Linked DNA regions of Homo sapiens. The protein of the gene in region 1 interacts with the protein of each later gene in a pairwise test. Each region holds a gene or a part of one and is shown on either strand. Other genes may lie near its edges.

Region 1 (8,165 bases):
ATAAGAATTTTTTGGCTCTTCATGTTATTTTAAATGCTCATGAGTAATACCAGAAACAGGCTTTATTTGGAAATAGATATACTATTTAAGACAAAATTTGAAGAGATTTATTTTAAAGTGTTCCATTTCTCTTTGAGAAATATTTTTTTTCTTTGCCTAGATACCTGGCACAGTGATGAACTTAATAGAAGATTCTGTCCTCACTATGCATATGGTCTGTGTTGTGGGTTCTTCCACATAAGCAAACAGGTGAAGATTAAGCCAGGCCACCCATGTGGGGGATCTAGCCCACTGCCAAGGGTGACTTTTTAGGGTGCTTGGGCCTCATCCATCCTTTTATAATCAAGATTATTAAAACAATGGGAGATGCTGTATGCTGATCTCCAGAAGAACAAAGAATTAGTTGGGTGTTAAACCAAGAACACTAAAAATGCAGCAGTAGCCAAAATTGCTGTGACCAGGTATAGGACAGTAAAAGGAAGGCTGTAAAAAGAACCTCTGAGGACCCAGGTGACTCTAGCTGTTAATGTCTGTCTGTCCTTGGATATTGGGAACTGAAGCAGATGTCTAAGCTGTAGAGCTAGAGTTGACATGAGATAGCTCTGTCTCTTCTTGGGTCTGTGGAAGTTGCAGTCTTTATCGAGTGGCAGTGATTAGACCACTCTAAGACCCAAGGCTTATGAGGCTGGGGAGCTTCCAGGGTGAGGAAGAAGCAAAGTACTAGCTACTACCTCCTAGAAAAGATGCGAGAATTTGGGAGTGGTGGGAGGAACTGAGAGACCCTGTGATTTCCAGCAACTTAAAGAGACAAGCAAGACCAGGTGTCCACCTGGGAAGCCATTTTTACATATTTTAGAATCTTGGCTTATTGAACAAGCTCAGGTCTATTGCTTACTAAGCTTCTCTTCTTGCTAAGTTTCCAATTAGTAATTTAAGTCGTGCTGTGAAGGATTGTATGCAGTTTGAAACTCCACAGTCCAGATTCATTTGAGTTAACACCTCTGTATCCCATATATGTATTCTCTTAATACATCACCTAATATTTCCAAAGCCCCCCCCCCCAGTCACTGTCATCTGGTCATCCTCTATCTTCTCACAATACTTTTTCCTCATAGCACTAAATAGTACCTGTCCTCATATTAAGTGTCTGTTTATTATCTGCCTCCTTCCCTGGAATGTAAGCTTCATGAGGGCAGGAGTGCAGTTTTGTTTATTACTGTAACCTCAGAGTAGAGAAGCCTGGCCACATAGTAGATGCTAGTATTCGTTTCCTAGGGCTGCTGTAACAGATACCATACATGAGTTACTTAAAACAACAGAAATTTATTCTTTCACAGTTTAGGTGGCCAGAAGTCCCAAACCAAGATATAACAAATTATATCTGCAAAGCCTTTATTTCCACAGAACCACATTCTGAGGTTCTGGGTGGACATTAATTTGGCAGGGAGTAGTGGGGGGACACTAACCTACTACAGTGCTCAGTAAATATTTATTGGGTGAATGAAAATTCAGAGTGTATTCTAAGCTGTAAACCCCTTGGATGTTTTCATCACAGTCTTCTCTTAATAACTGCTACAGAACATAAGGATTAGTTTGTGGTCCCAGATTTTTTAGGCTCCAATTCTGCTTCTACCACTTTCTACTTGTGAGCTCTTAGGCAAGCTATTTAACTTTGTAAGCCTCAGTTTCTTCTGTAAAATGGTGACAATAAGAAATAACAGTAAGTGCCCAATAAGTTTTAACTATTATTATGTGTCTATAGCTATTTTAAAGCACTTTCTATATGTAATCCTCATAACAACCGTATTAGGTGAGCCTATTACACTTCTCATTTTATGACAAAGGAAACTAGATTTGTTTCAAGAATGAAAAACCTAGAAAATTATATGTCACTTTATGAAGTGCCTGGCACATAGTACATAGAATAGCTTAGCTACAATAATATAGATATGTGACTTTACCTCATAACTTTAAGACATCTCAAATTGATTCACAAATCAGAAAAAAAATCTGAGGCATCAGATGTGAGGTGAGGTGAGGTGAGGCATCTCAGTTTTTGCACATATGGTTACTGTTATTGAGGGAGCTCCATGTCATTGAGGGAGCTCCACGTCATTGAGGGAGGACTGGGTGGGATGCTGGCCAAAGGTAGGGGCATATTTAGGCAGTGAAATTGCAGTTATGGGACCCCTCTATAGCACTAGATGTGTGAGAGGACTAAAAATAAAATTCCTTTGAAATTTCTTACAGGGTCATATATTACCTCCTTCCCAATGACTACTGTGGTATATTAGAGTAGGGGATTGATGTCCCAGAAATATTATGTACATCAAACAGAAGATCTACACAAATTGTTTTATCAGATACTGAATATATCAATGGGCTAGAGTGTATTATAGTACATATGGGTATGTTGTTTTCCCCCTTTTGACTAAATAAACTCTCCCCTCTCTGCAACAGGTAAATTTCCAGTTTACCTTTTTCTTGCTGTTTTTAATTTTTTTTATTTTGAAGGCTTTGTATCTTTATATCTCAGCTGAAAATATTACATTCTAACTCCCCAAAGCTATTCTCACATTATTTGCAAGTATTTTTTCATAGTTTACATGTTTGTGTATTTGTTTAATACATTCCACAAGACTGAAAGTCTTGGTGAGGGCAGGAACTCTGTCTAGGTTGTTCATCTGGCAGCCAGCAAACCCAAAATAAGTATTAGTTGAATGAATAGCTAAATAGATGAGCCATGGGGTAGCATATCTGTTTTAGCTACTGCTTGCCTGTTATCATCCTGGGATGCTGCTTGCTTCTCCGTGATCTCTTCTTGTTCTTAAATTGTCTTCAGTTGTAGTACTAAGTACTAATTTGATCTGTAATGTGATATGTGGCTGAAGTTTGCTCTGTAAAATCACCGTTTCCTGAGGTATATTCAATATCTTTAATTTTTCCATAAATCTCTTCAAGGTTTGTGTGTGTTTTCTTTTAAATTATCTAACTAGTTGGATGTATGCTTGAAGTGCTAGACAATAAAAGTTTCAATAGGCTAGAAATGTTTCTTTTTGTAAAATTATTTTAAGAAACTAGATGATGGTTGTCACTTGAAGCTGAAATGCAAATGTAGCTAGTTTTTTTTAAAGAATAATTCAAATAGGTCATTAAAGATTACTATGAGCACACTGCATATTCAAATCAGTTTGAATATGTTTTGAGACTTCTAATAGTTTATGATTCTTGACATTTTAATGAGCACACTGCATATTCAAATCAGTTTGAATATGTTTTGAGACTTCTAATAGTTTATGATTCTTGACATTTTAAAAGTTTATTATAAAGAATATAAAACATCTTTACCCTCATTTTTTATGTCATTACCTTCATGCAAAGAATACCTCAGGTATTAATTCTGGTGCTGTTGGTAACTAGAACTGGTTGGGTTTTCTTGCTAAAAGGAAGTTTAAAAAATGTTTATTTTACACCATTAATGCAATTAGCTTTAGTTCTCAGAGGAACTAAAAGTGGAAAAGTGAGGGAGACTGATCGACCCTATCTCAAATCCACTGACGTAGCTACTTTAATTTCATAGTCCCTGTAGCACCTCCACCAGAGGGCAGAAAGTGGAAGAGAAAGAAGATGAAATAGAAACTTGTACTTGGCCTCAGAATGCCTGTAGAAACCTTAGCAATTGAATCCAGCCCTTATGTTATAGGCTGAGTTAACTGTGGCCCAGAAAGACTATGTGATTTGCTCACAGTTCTTGATTCCCAGACTGGCACTGCGGTGATGGTGTGTGATGAGGTAGTATCTTAGTAAGAACACAATCCAGAAGTCACTGCCTCGGGGGAATCCCAGCTCAGCTTCTTGCTAGCTTGCGTAGGCTGGTTACTTCACTTCAGCTCCCTGAATCTGCTTTCTTATCTCTAAAATAAAAATAATAGCTTCTTCCTCAGAGTAGTTGGTGGAACTGAAAGAATACATGTAAAGTGCTTAGTATGACACCTGCCACATAATATGAACTGAATTATTGTGAATTATGATAAATTTGTCAGATACTGGTTTACAAATCGGATGTTAGAATAACATGGAATCAGTGTTTCAGTCATTTTACTATACATATGCAATATTTTCTACATTTGATCTCACTTCAGAAACAAAATACTGCCCCCCCCATTTTACAAATGCATATTTTTTTCTCAGCAATAATGTTCAAGAACAAGTGCTTGGCCCATATTTTGTTGTCTTTACATGGCTTTCTTTAAATAATGGGGATGGATTTATTAAATAACCTCATGAGTAATTTTCAAAATTTCCATTAAGATCTTGATTGAAATTGGATGAAAAATCATTTCTAAGAAAAACCCAATGAAGTGTTTTTCTTTGCCACATTTGACAATTGCCTTGGACTTGGTAAAGTAATCATTACTGTGTTGAGTACCTCCAGTGCCCTCCTTGACGCTGCCTTAGAAAAGGTAGCTGCTTTTGAATGACAGGCAGGAATTTGTTCGCCTTTTAGGTTCAGCCTGTAGGTGCCCTCTGCAGGAAATCAGGAACTAGGGTTTTGGAAGCAGTCAGGGTGGGGTTCTCCCTTGTCCCTGCAGCCTCAGCAAAGACTCAGGCAGTCTGGCAAAAGCAGTTTCTTCAGCATACCTAACAGAACGCAAGTTTCCATATGCCTGATGCAAATAATGGCCTCCAAACGTTAAACCTTTTTTGAGATAAACTTGTTCTTTAATTGCCAGCGCCTGCAGTTAATTTTGATTGGCTACACTCTGGTTAAAAGAAAATGCTTTCGATGTGATATGGCAAATTTGGAGAAAAGTAACTCTTTTGCTCCCAACCAGTCTTCCACAACTTAAACTTAATCGTCCTGTCCTTTTCTGCTGCCCTCGTGGAGTGTAAGTTTTTGAGGGAGACCAGCAGAAACTGACTTTCCATATGCCCCTGAAGAATAACTTCTTTGAATGCAAAGAGGTGGGGACACGGAGGATCTGTCATTACGGGTTATTATGGGTGGGACCCAGAGACGGGAGTGAAGGGAGGGTGTGGCCCGCGGGTGGGATCTGTAGAGCAGACAAAATATGGGGCCCCTGGCGCTTAAAGTTCAGTTTGTCTCTCTTGAGCTTGGAGAAAATCATCCGTAGTGCCTCCCCGGGGGACACGTAGAGGAGAGAAAAGCGACCAAGATAAAAGTGGACAGAAGAATAAGCGAGACTTTTTATCCATGAAACAGTCTCCTGCCCTCGCTCCGGAAGAGCGCTGCCGCAGAGCCGGGTCCCCAAAGCCGGTAAGATCGATGATTCGCTGTCCTACCGCAGCCAGGTGTGATGGCCTCTTAGTCCCGGTGAATTCAGGGTCAGCCCCTCCCGCCCCCGTCCTCTCCTCCGCCCGATGCCACCTCCTTCCCCAGCCGCCGGTGAGCTCCCGCTCTGACAGTTCCGCGCTCAGCGCCCTGCACCCAGTTCCCAGGCGCACGGCCCTGGTCCCGACCACCACCCCGGTCGCCCGGCGTCCGAGACCCTCCCAGGGTCATGGGCAGGGTTTCCTTCAGTGTTCGAGTCGGCTCGATCCGGAGACCCCGGTCTCCATGCCGGGGGTGATGCCACCTTTCCTGCAGAGTCCCTCCTCCGCACGGTGCCCTCCAAGCATCTAGTGGACTTGGCTGCACACTGGCGGCAGGGGAGGCTGCAGGTGGAGCTGTCGGAGCCAGCCCCTCGGGGATCTACAGCTTCCTGTCTGCGCCGGCGTCTCGGGCGCCGGGTGGCTGGAGGGACTGTGCAGCAGTCTTGCCTGCCCCAGACGTAAGCCCCCTTCCCCAGCTGCGAGCGCCTGGGTGTCGGTCCCTCCACAGCCCGGGCTCGCGCTTGGTTCCCCGGCCCCCAGTTGGTGCCTGGGGATCACTCGCCCGTCCTAAGTGCTGGCATCCCAGAACTGGCCCTCTTGCAGAGTGCTGGGAACTTGTAGGTCCCTGCGTGCAAACTTTCTCCGGCGTGAACCTGCCTAGGCACAGGAGGGCTGGCCGCCGGGGGCGCAGGCTCTGCGCTGTAGGATTTGGTTGGCTCAGATCCAGTCCTGGGAAGGGGCAGCGTTGGCTCTCGTTCAGGAGGAGAAAGAAAGGGAAGGGCACCACGGACAGTCCCTACTGGCCTGAGCCCCCAGGAAGAAGGTCTAATTTGCGGCTGCCCCTCTCCTTCGGTGTCATTAGGGCCCCGGAATCCGCTTGCTACCGCGAGGGTCCCAGCTGCTCCGAATCGGGGACCGACCGGTGACGCTAGCTGCAGGCAGAGAGGGCAGGCTGTGCGGGCGGAAGGGAGGTGGTGTCTTGTCGGATCTTACTGGGACCCAGTTCCTGAGCTCCCGTGGCAGGCGCCTCACTCCTGCTACTACCTGCTCGGGGCCAGTGGATGGCAGTGTACGCGCTTTTTGCACGGCTCCCGGTTCCTGGGACCGAGCCCTGGGAGCTCTGACTTTGAATTCAGCAGGGAAGCTTCGGGGCTGGGCATTCCCAGGGAAGCTGTTCGAGTAATTCATAAAGTGGAGCTTTCCTCCCGCGGGAAACTTCTGAGAACGATGCGCTGCGAAGACGGACTCCTGTACAAGACTTCGATGACTGACATAGGCACAATTGTGGCTTCTAGTTTTTATTTTAACTTTTTATTTAAAGTAACTTATCGATGGAAGCGAAACTCTGCAAAGGAACGTCAGACCGCTACCAGAAAGGGGGTGAAGTCAGGACTTACTGGTGATTATTGTCCAAGGACACATTTAAGCAGATAGTTTTGAAATTAATTTTGGCATAACCCTGAGACAATGAGAAGAAACAATGCATTTATAAAAAGTTATTAAACCATTTTTTTTTGTCACAGTCAAAACATTCATTAGCTTGTTTCTATTATTAGGTGCCCAATAGGTTTGTTGTGTGAGATTGTGCTAAAAATTGGTCCTCAGATCCTGGGACTTGAGAGGTTAGAGGAGGTTCCTGGGGCTTGCGAGGTTAGAGGAGATGTCTGCATAGACTCACGTGTGGGCTTGGCTGACCAGGCAGGTTTTCCATAGAATGCTTTCCAGGACACCAAGAATTTCAATAGGATGAACTATTTTGGGGTTATTTGGGTGTGGAAACACATCAACCTCAAAACCCCAAGATTCTATAAGGCATTTTTTAAGGGGGAGGGGACTCTTTCCAGAAAGTTCCTTTCAGGGTAGGCTTACAGGACCAACGATGAAAGCCTCTGTTAACCTTCCTGTGGGTTAAAAAGACACACCAAGAATTGCTCTATTAACCTTATCAAGCACATATCCAGGTACAGAGACACTTTCTTAAAAGATGCAAAATTCATTCCATCAGAAACCTTCCTCATAATGCTGCAGAAATCACAATAGCAACAGCATAGAAGGCAGGCATCAGTGCTTCCGCATCTTGCATTCCACAACCAGCTGTGGTTTCCTTTTGGAAGGGTCACATTCTCCACCATAGCTTCATGTGGATTTCAGCAGTTGCTAGTTCTATTGACTGGCCAGCCCCTCTGTTGACCTCCCCCACTGTTGGGGGCAGACAGGAAGTTAGAGGAGAAGCTGAGTGGCCCAGGAGCTTCAGAGAGTCACTTTCAAAAGCCTGTACTTTCAAATCTCCATACTGTTAATGAGGTACTCCTTTCCTTATTTTTCCTCTTTTCCGCACTTGTAGCCTCTTTCAACACAAAGACTTGTGGTCTTAGGGTTTCTGAGTGTCCCCACTGCTGGGGTAATAAGAGCTCTCTGAGGAGCAGGAGAGCCGCAACACTGAATTGTTGCTGAGCGTATCTGAGGGGGAAAGGTTTGTTTGACCTGCTACTTCTACCTAATAAGTTATTCAACAAGTATGGATTCATGCATCCTGTTAGCCCCATCACTATTCTTGGCATTCCATTTTGCTGGACCAAATGGAAAATGAGGCTGGCTGGCTAAAGGGTACTGACCTGATACTGGCTGGCTAAACATACTAGGTTCACACTAAACACTCAAGGGATTCCAAGACTTACCTGTTCCTCAGAGTCTACACACTCACATAAAGACACACACAGACATAATACACTTGTTTGTTTTATGTCTGTTCAGAGAGGGTGGAAATGGCAGACCCCTTAAGAGTAGAAGGTGCTGTAGATGACCTGCCTTGGTGGGAAGAGTAGGAGCTT
Region 2 (7,271 bases), on another chromosome or scaffold:
GAGACTTTGAGAAGAATTGACTTCTAAGGACCAGAAGGGAAGTTTAGAGGTGCATAATTTGGTTCCCTGATTGCTAACCTAGGAGTCAGATAACTTCTTCCTGTCCAGAAGTCTGTGTGTTCACTGAACTGCCATGGGGCCTGGCGGCAGCAGCAATTCTTTAAGAGTGACCTAAAACACAATAACTGGGAGCAACACAATAGAATAGAGCAACCAAAAACCCACTTCCCCAGTGAAGGAAGTGGTCAAAATCCTGGGGCTTGAGTCACTGAAGAATTAGCCCTAGCTGAGGGGTGGGAGGGGAGCATGCTCAGAAATCAGGAGCTGAAGACGATGCAAACACTGGGGGAGGCCCTCAGGGCTCAAATTTCCATGATTCATTTGAGAGTGGGTGAGATTCTCCCAGAATGAAAGGCATCATGGAGACCTTCTCTACAAAAGGGCACGAGAGAGCTTTCTGAGAAGCAGGGTATGGATCTGGCTGGCATTTCCCTGGCAGCTTAAGAAAGGCCAGGATTTTTCTGGGGAGAAAAGAGCAGTAATGACCACTGCCAAATGTCCTATCTTCCCTTCCCCTCATTCCACTTTTGTTGCCCAAAACATCACAGTCCTACCCTGAGTTTCTACCTCCATTACTTATCTCACATCCTTCCTTATGTTCTATTCCCATTGCTACTGTCCAGTTCAGGTCCTAGCCTGACCATGGCATCAGCCTCACCCATGACCCTGTCTCTGAACAACTCCCCTCTAACATATCTTCTACCCTGCTACTGGGTTATCTGACCATGGCACTCCCCTGCTCAAGAACCTCCAAACCCCCACCTCTAACCACCACCAATCAGCAGGAAAGAGGCTCCACGCACCTCAAGCCAGCCCTTGCAATCCCAGGACTTGGATTTCCAAAAATAAAAGCTCTGCTTTTGTATTCTTCTTTCAGTGACAGTCTATCAAATTCTTTTCAACCAAGCTAAAATCCTACCTCTTCTAAAAAGCCTTCCCAGATCCATAGGTTAGGAGCAGTTTTCTTTTCTCTCTTCTTCTATTGCCCTCACATAGCTTTTTATTAAAACCACTGATGACAGCCCTAAGATTTTAAGTCCCTGAAGGGAGAGTCTTGCCTGTGACAGGTACCAAATAAATATCTGTTCAATGAACAAATAAATGAATTAAGGATGGCCATATTTTCTTCCCCATGGAAAAATAATCAATGTCAAAATGACTGAAGACTTCATAATAAACACAGAATTATAGAGGGAAAATATTTCCTTTTTTTTTTAACATACATAGACTTTAGTCCTTTATTATTTTTCAGAAATTGCTTAATACTTTACTACAACTATGTATTGAGCATCTTATTGTATGCAAACTTTGTTATATATTTCTATATAAATACCTATGTAAATATGTGACTGTTTCCTGAGTGCATTTGAATATACAAGGGTATATATGTGTGTGTTGCCTTTTGTTCAAGAGGAAATAAGTGAATGCAAAGAAAATGTCTTAAATTTCTAAACACTAGTTTGTCTGCAGATTTAATCTTTCTCTCTACTTCTTTGAATTATAGAATCTCAGGACTGAAGAGGGAGGTCTTTAAAATTCCTTTTCAATTCAAGAAAGTCATCTACAAATCTGACCAAAGAACTATCTGAATCATGCTTAACCTCCTCCAGTCATGGAGAGCTCACTACCTACCAGGATCCCTTCCCCGATTAGAAAGATTTTTCTGACAATACGTCCGAGTGTGCTCTTTGCAACGACCACCATGACTTTTAATTCTGCCGGTGAGATTACCTGACTAGACTAATTCTTCCTCTTTCTAGCATGGTTGTCTTCACAGCAGAACTACCAGGTTATCAGAAGATTCACCAGAGGCCTTCACCTTAGATCTCAAAATCTCAGTCAAGTCATAACACAGTCCTGAGATTACTGCTAGACACTCCCTGTCTTTTTGCTGGCCAGTGTTTTTCTGACAGTGAGATTCTGATCTCTTTCTGGATAACTGTAAACTTTGGAGAAAGCTTTCTCACAGCATCTGACCAAAGACGTGGTGCTTCCTCCAAAGCACGAGGAGAGAGAGAGGCGTAGCCGCTTCTGGTCAACTGACCCCCATGAGTCAGACGACCCCACACCACCTTCCTCAGCGTGACACCTGAAACTCCGCAGCTGCCTCTCCTTCCTAAGACACCACGCAGGGTGGCACGAAAGCCTTTCTGTCCTCTGCGCAAGTCGGGAGCATTTTGCTTTTGTTGGTTTGGTTTTGATGTGTTTGTTTCCCATGAAGGATCATTTGGTTGGCAAAATGGATGCGCATGTAACACAAAAGCAGAAAAGGAAGCACTCCCTTCTGGGGGCAGCCGGAGAGGATGTGTCTGGAGGAGGAAAAGACTGGGATTAAAGGCAGGCTGAGTGGATGAGACCTTGGATGAGCCTCTCTGGCCACTGTTATTGTTGTTTTATATCAAGTGTACTTTTCCATTCTCAATATTGTGTTTATGCAGGGGTGGGAAAGCAGGGGATTAATTTCTCCGTGGGAAACATGGGGAGAAAAAGGATTCTCAGGGGCCATTTCCTCCGGCCTCTGCATAGCTCATGTTTGGTGTGGAAGGAAGGAACCTCAGGTAGGACTTGATGTTGGAAAATACAGGGCAGTTTTTACAACCAGGAGAAACATCGTCAATCAAGCAGCAAAAGTAACAGGGACCTACATGCTGCAGGGAAAACAATTATTTTTTTCATCTTCCAAATGCAGGCTATTATAAATGGGGGTTATTATACAGCAAGTCGTGTTGGTCTGGTGCTGTGTAGACTAGCACAGAGTCTCACATAGTCAGGGGTGAGGAGCCAAGGTGTGGGTTGGGAGTGGGGCAAGCACACTGTATGAGAGAGAGAGAACCTATTGGAGAACCAGATTCTTATAATAAATCTGCCCCTGACCAACTTCTGACTTTAGAAAAATCACATAACCTCTCTGGTCAGTGGCTCCTACAGGCACAGAGTTCAAAGTAGCACAGAGCAGGGATTCTCAGCTCCAATCCTGGCTCCACCATGTCTGAACTGTGACCTGTAGACCTCACAGGATTAGCATGAGGGCTGAAGGCCTGTGCCAGGCACAGAGTGGGGGCCACACAGTTCCTGGTTGGTTGGTCTCTTCCTCTGTGTAAAATGAGAGGCTCGGGCCGGGGAAATGGGCTTTATGCTTCTCTGGCAGAGCCTGAGGGCCAACAATTATGCTAAAGGCAAACAAGTGGCATGAATATTGTTTTTGCAAATGCTCCCAAGAAGAATAACCTCTCTCTCTTATTTCCGCTTGTCCTCCTTCGTGTCCAGGGGAGGGGTGGATCTGGGCAACATCTGCAAAGACTGAGGCCAGACCTGGGCTGTGAAGTTGGGGCCCAGCCTACTCCCCCAGACTGCAGCTGGTCAAGGGATCAGGCGATGTTCCCTGGGCGAGGACGGAAGCGTGAGTTGCCTTCTGCTTTTGACAAACGAGTGTTCTGGCAGCCAGAATGTCTTCAAGGGAGAGGTTGCCAAGATAATAACTAGGGGTTTGGGAAGAAAACCTAGGTGTGGCCCGGCCCCAGCGGCGCTTGGGTGGGACCAACAGTAGATGGCGGCAACATGCTTCAACCAGCAAAGCTGCAGCCTCCTGGAAGGCGGCAAGCTGGGAGGGGAGGCCCCTCGCCTAGAGACACCCCAGACCCATCAGGTGGGCTCAGGGCTTCATTTCAATTCGTTCTTTAGAGGTTGAGAGGCATTGAGGTCATTCAGTCCAACCCCTTGATAAGAAGGAAATGCACGTCCCCAAAGGAGAAATGGAATTGAATCAGAACTGAAGCCATTTCGCACCTTCCAGGCAGGGCTCTTCCACCTGGCATGATTTTTTCTCTCCTGTCTCTTGGCTTAGGGTTTGGTGGAAGTTCTAGAACTTCTACCAGATCTACTGTTCTCTCTTTTCCTCCTACCCTCTCTGAGTTAATCAGAGAGTCAGCATATACCCCTTAAAACTGTGCCAATTATAAAAACACAGGGTCTTCCGAGGCCACTGCTTCTCCCTGTCGTTTTGCTGAGAAGTCCCACCCAGCAGAGCCAGCCTGCCTGGCCAAAACAGACCCGAACAATATCCCCCTGCAAACTCCGAGCAACCTTCTAACCCTCAGCACAGGAGTCCCCACCCCACCCAGACATGGAGACTATCTTTCAATAAAGGGAAGCTCCAGGTCTCAGCTTCAGAGCTTTCTCTGAGATCAATGTGAACACACTGCCTTGCCCCAAACTAGTTGTTTCAGGGTTGCAAACCTCTGTCCAACTCCCCTTCTCCAGCGTCCTGGGGAAGGGTCTTTGATTCTTTGAAATGAGAAGTCTAAGGATCAAGAACCCCGTTTTGCTCTCAGCTCTGATCTGACCTGGAAGAGGAGAAACATTGAAGAGGTTCCAGCCTGGTGGGCACATGTAGTGGAAACTAAAATGATACCAAAGAGGTGTCAACCATCCTGAAAAAACAAGAAGTAGCCAATGCGACAAAAGATTCTTCACAGGGGACAAAGAATCGAATTTTGACCGAAGGACTGCCTTGAAACATTGAGGGTGGGTGGTCCCCAAACAAGAGTGGAAGGATGGAAGGGGAAACATCCTCATCACTTCTCCCTTGCTCTTTTGCCCCCTTTCTGTCTTTCTCTATCCACTTAGCTTTTTCTCCTGCTTCTAGGTCTTTCTGCCTGCCTCCTCCCTCAACACACAGGCCTGGGAAACAGCATCCCACTTGCCCTCCCTCCCTCCCTCCTGTCCTAGTTGCACCTTCCTCTTCCTCCTCTCAAACTGTTCCTCATTTGCTCCTGTCCACACCTGTACACCACACCTTCATGCTGCAGGGTCTCCCTCCTCAAGAAGAGGGTGGAGTTTCTTTCCCAGAGCCAGCTCAGTTTCTCCCTGAGCCTGATTCTGTTCCTGGTGAATGCTTTGCTGTTGTCAATGTCTTCACAGACTCAGCCTGCCCTCCTCATCTGAGCTGGCACCCTTTACGTTTAATTACTCAAACCTCTTTCTTTTATTCCTAGTGCCGAGTGAATGCTCATGGCTGAGGGTAAGTCCGGGGAACACCATACCTAAAGAATCTGTGAGTGGATGGGGCAGAGGAGGCTCCGTGGGTCCTCAAGGCACCCAGGAGACGAGAATCCTCTGCAAAATGCCCTTTTCAATGCCACACGTTGCCCTATTTCACTTTTCTATCAATTTTTACAGATTAAGCCAGCTGCTAGCATCAGCGCAAGGGATATCTCAAAATAGAAATGGTAGGATCTTAATTTTTTTGTTTTTCGTTTTTTTGGTGTTTTTGTTTGTTGGTTTGTTTTGTTTTTGTTTTTTTTGAGACAGGGTGTTGTTTCATTGCTCAGGCTGGAGTGCAATGGTACAATCATAGCTGACTACAGCCTCAAAGCCCTGGGGCTCAATCAATCCTCCTGCCTCAGCTTCCCAAGTAGCTGGGACTACAGGCATGCACTACCACACCCTGCTTTTTAAAATTCTTCTTTTAGAGACAGGGTCTCACTATGTTGCCCAGACTGGTCTCAAACTCCTAGGTTCAAGTGATCCTCCCACCTCAGTCTCCCAAGTAGCTGGGATTACCACGCCTGGGTGAATCTTAGAATCTCAGAGCCATAAGGGGTCTGAAAGAACCACCAAGTTCAACTTCCGAAAGCAAGAAGACAAGTGTCTCGCCTGTGGTTACATGGCAGCGTCAAGATAACACCACTGCCCCTCTGTCTTCCTAGTCAGCTGTCTTACATCTGCTCCAGGATTCTTGCCACGCTTTCAACCTGTGCTGAAAGGGCTCTCTAGTTTAACTACCCGGTTTGAAGAAACAATTCATGAAACAGGCTCAGCAAATAGAAAAACTGTCACAGCCACGTAAGTCCAAGCGCACCAACAGCAGAGGATTCCATTGCAGTTCCAGGGAAATGCCATCTCCACAACACAAAAGAAAACCTTGACCCAAACATTTTGTTAAAAAGGAAGAGAGAAGCAGCAATCACCACAGGTGTTTGTGCTTTCATCTTTCTGCTTTAGTATCAGTGAATCTCCCAGGTAAATTGAAGGAAATGGTTTTACCCAGGCAGGACACCAGGGACTGAATTGTTGCAAAGAGCAGTCTCAGGACGTGTGTATGTCGGGGCTGGGTGCTGAAGATTCAAGTAAACCCCTAACTGGAACCATATTTGGGCTTCCTTGATTACTGAATAGCAAGTGCAGTCCAGAAATTCAAGATCACCTGGGCGGATCTGGGAAGAGTATTAGAAAAGGGAAGCTTATGGTGAGAAAATTCCCGTTCTACGCTGGTTAAGGGTTAGGAGCTCTTCTCAAGGGGCTGATACCCAGATTGCTGGCCAGCAATTACAAGGAGGCTACATTTGATGGGCAGCCTGTTCCCGTAATTACTATGATGGGTGGTGACAATGTATAGGTGTGGGCTACATGAACTATGGACCAAATTATGGGACAATCCCCAAAAGGCCTAGCTAGAAGCCTGTGTCCTGGTATTGGATTGATCTAACCATGACCTAGTAGGTAGCAACACTGGGTGTGTCCCTCCGAGTATGTACATCTGAGAGTCCCAAATAGGCCTGAGCTTTTGTGTTAGGCAGCTATGTACATACATGTGGGAGGTTAAAGAAGGAACCATATTCATGCATTTAGAAAATTAAATACCTCCAAATCAAAAACCCCGTGAGTATGATTGACTATGTACATAATTCCAAACTTCAAAAATGCTCCCTGCCCTTCTGAGCCTTAGGCAAAAAAAAAAAAAAAAAGAAGAAGAAGAAGAAGAAGAAAAGATAATGCAATGTAGATCCATCAAGTTGTATTCATTAAATATTAAATAGGCGTTAAGTGTTTAGAGGATGAGAATCATTGGGTGGAGCAACAACAAAACCAGAATAGATATTTTCTGAGTTGTTTCAGGCCAGCAGAATCAGGAAGTTATAAGGAAGTTGATTTTGCTTGATTTAAGGAACTTTAATAAAATTAGAGTTGGCCTGCTAAGGGGAATGAGTGTGGAGGTACACACTGAGGTTCTGAGCTCCCCGCATCTGGAAATTTTAAGATCTGTAGGATGGCCATCTGTTCAAGATGGTGTAAAAATTAGATTTCTGCATACAGTAGGAGAATGAATGAGATCCAAGATCCCTCCCAAATTTAGAATTCTGTGAACGAAATGAAGGATGAAATGGAACTGACTTGCCTCCTGCCCTTTCCTGTGTCCACGTTTCAGTTAT

Evidence for each region.
Region 2: the proteins of CORIN (region 1) and EMP1 interact in binary tests that used the Homo sapiens proteins (3 or more experiments, as listed by UniProt).

What each region holds. Positions count from the first base shown.
Region 1 is NC_000004.12:47,835,000-47,843,164, reverse strand, and holds the start of CORIN (atrial natriuretic peptide-converting enzyme), read left to right. Parts: upstream 1-5,097; 5' UTR 5,098-5,215; coding exon 5,216-5,278; intron 5,279-8,165. UniProt on the Homo sapiens protein: Serine-type endopeptidase involved in atrial natriuretic peptide (NPPA) and brain natriuretic peptide (NPPB) processing.
Region 2 is NC_000012.12:13,199,500-13,206,770, reverse strand, and holds part of EMP1 (epithelial membrane protein 1), read right to left. Parts: intron 1-7,271.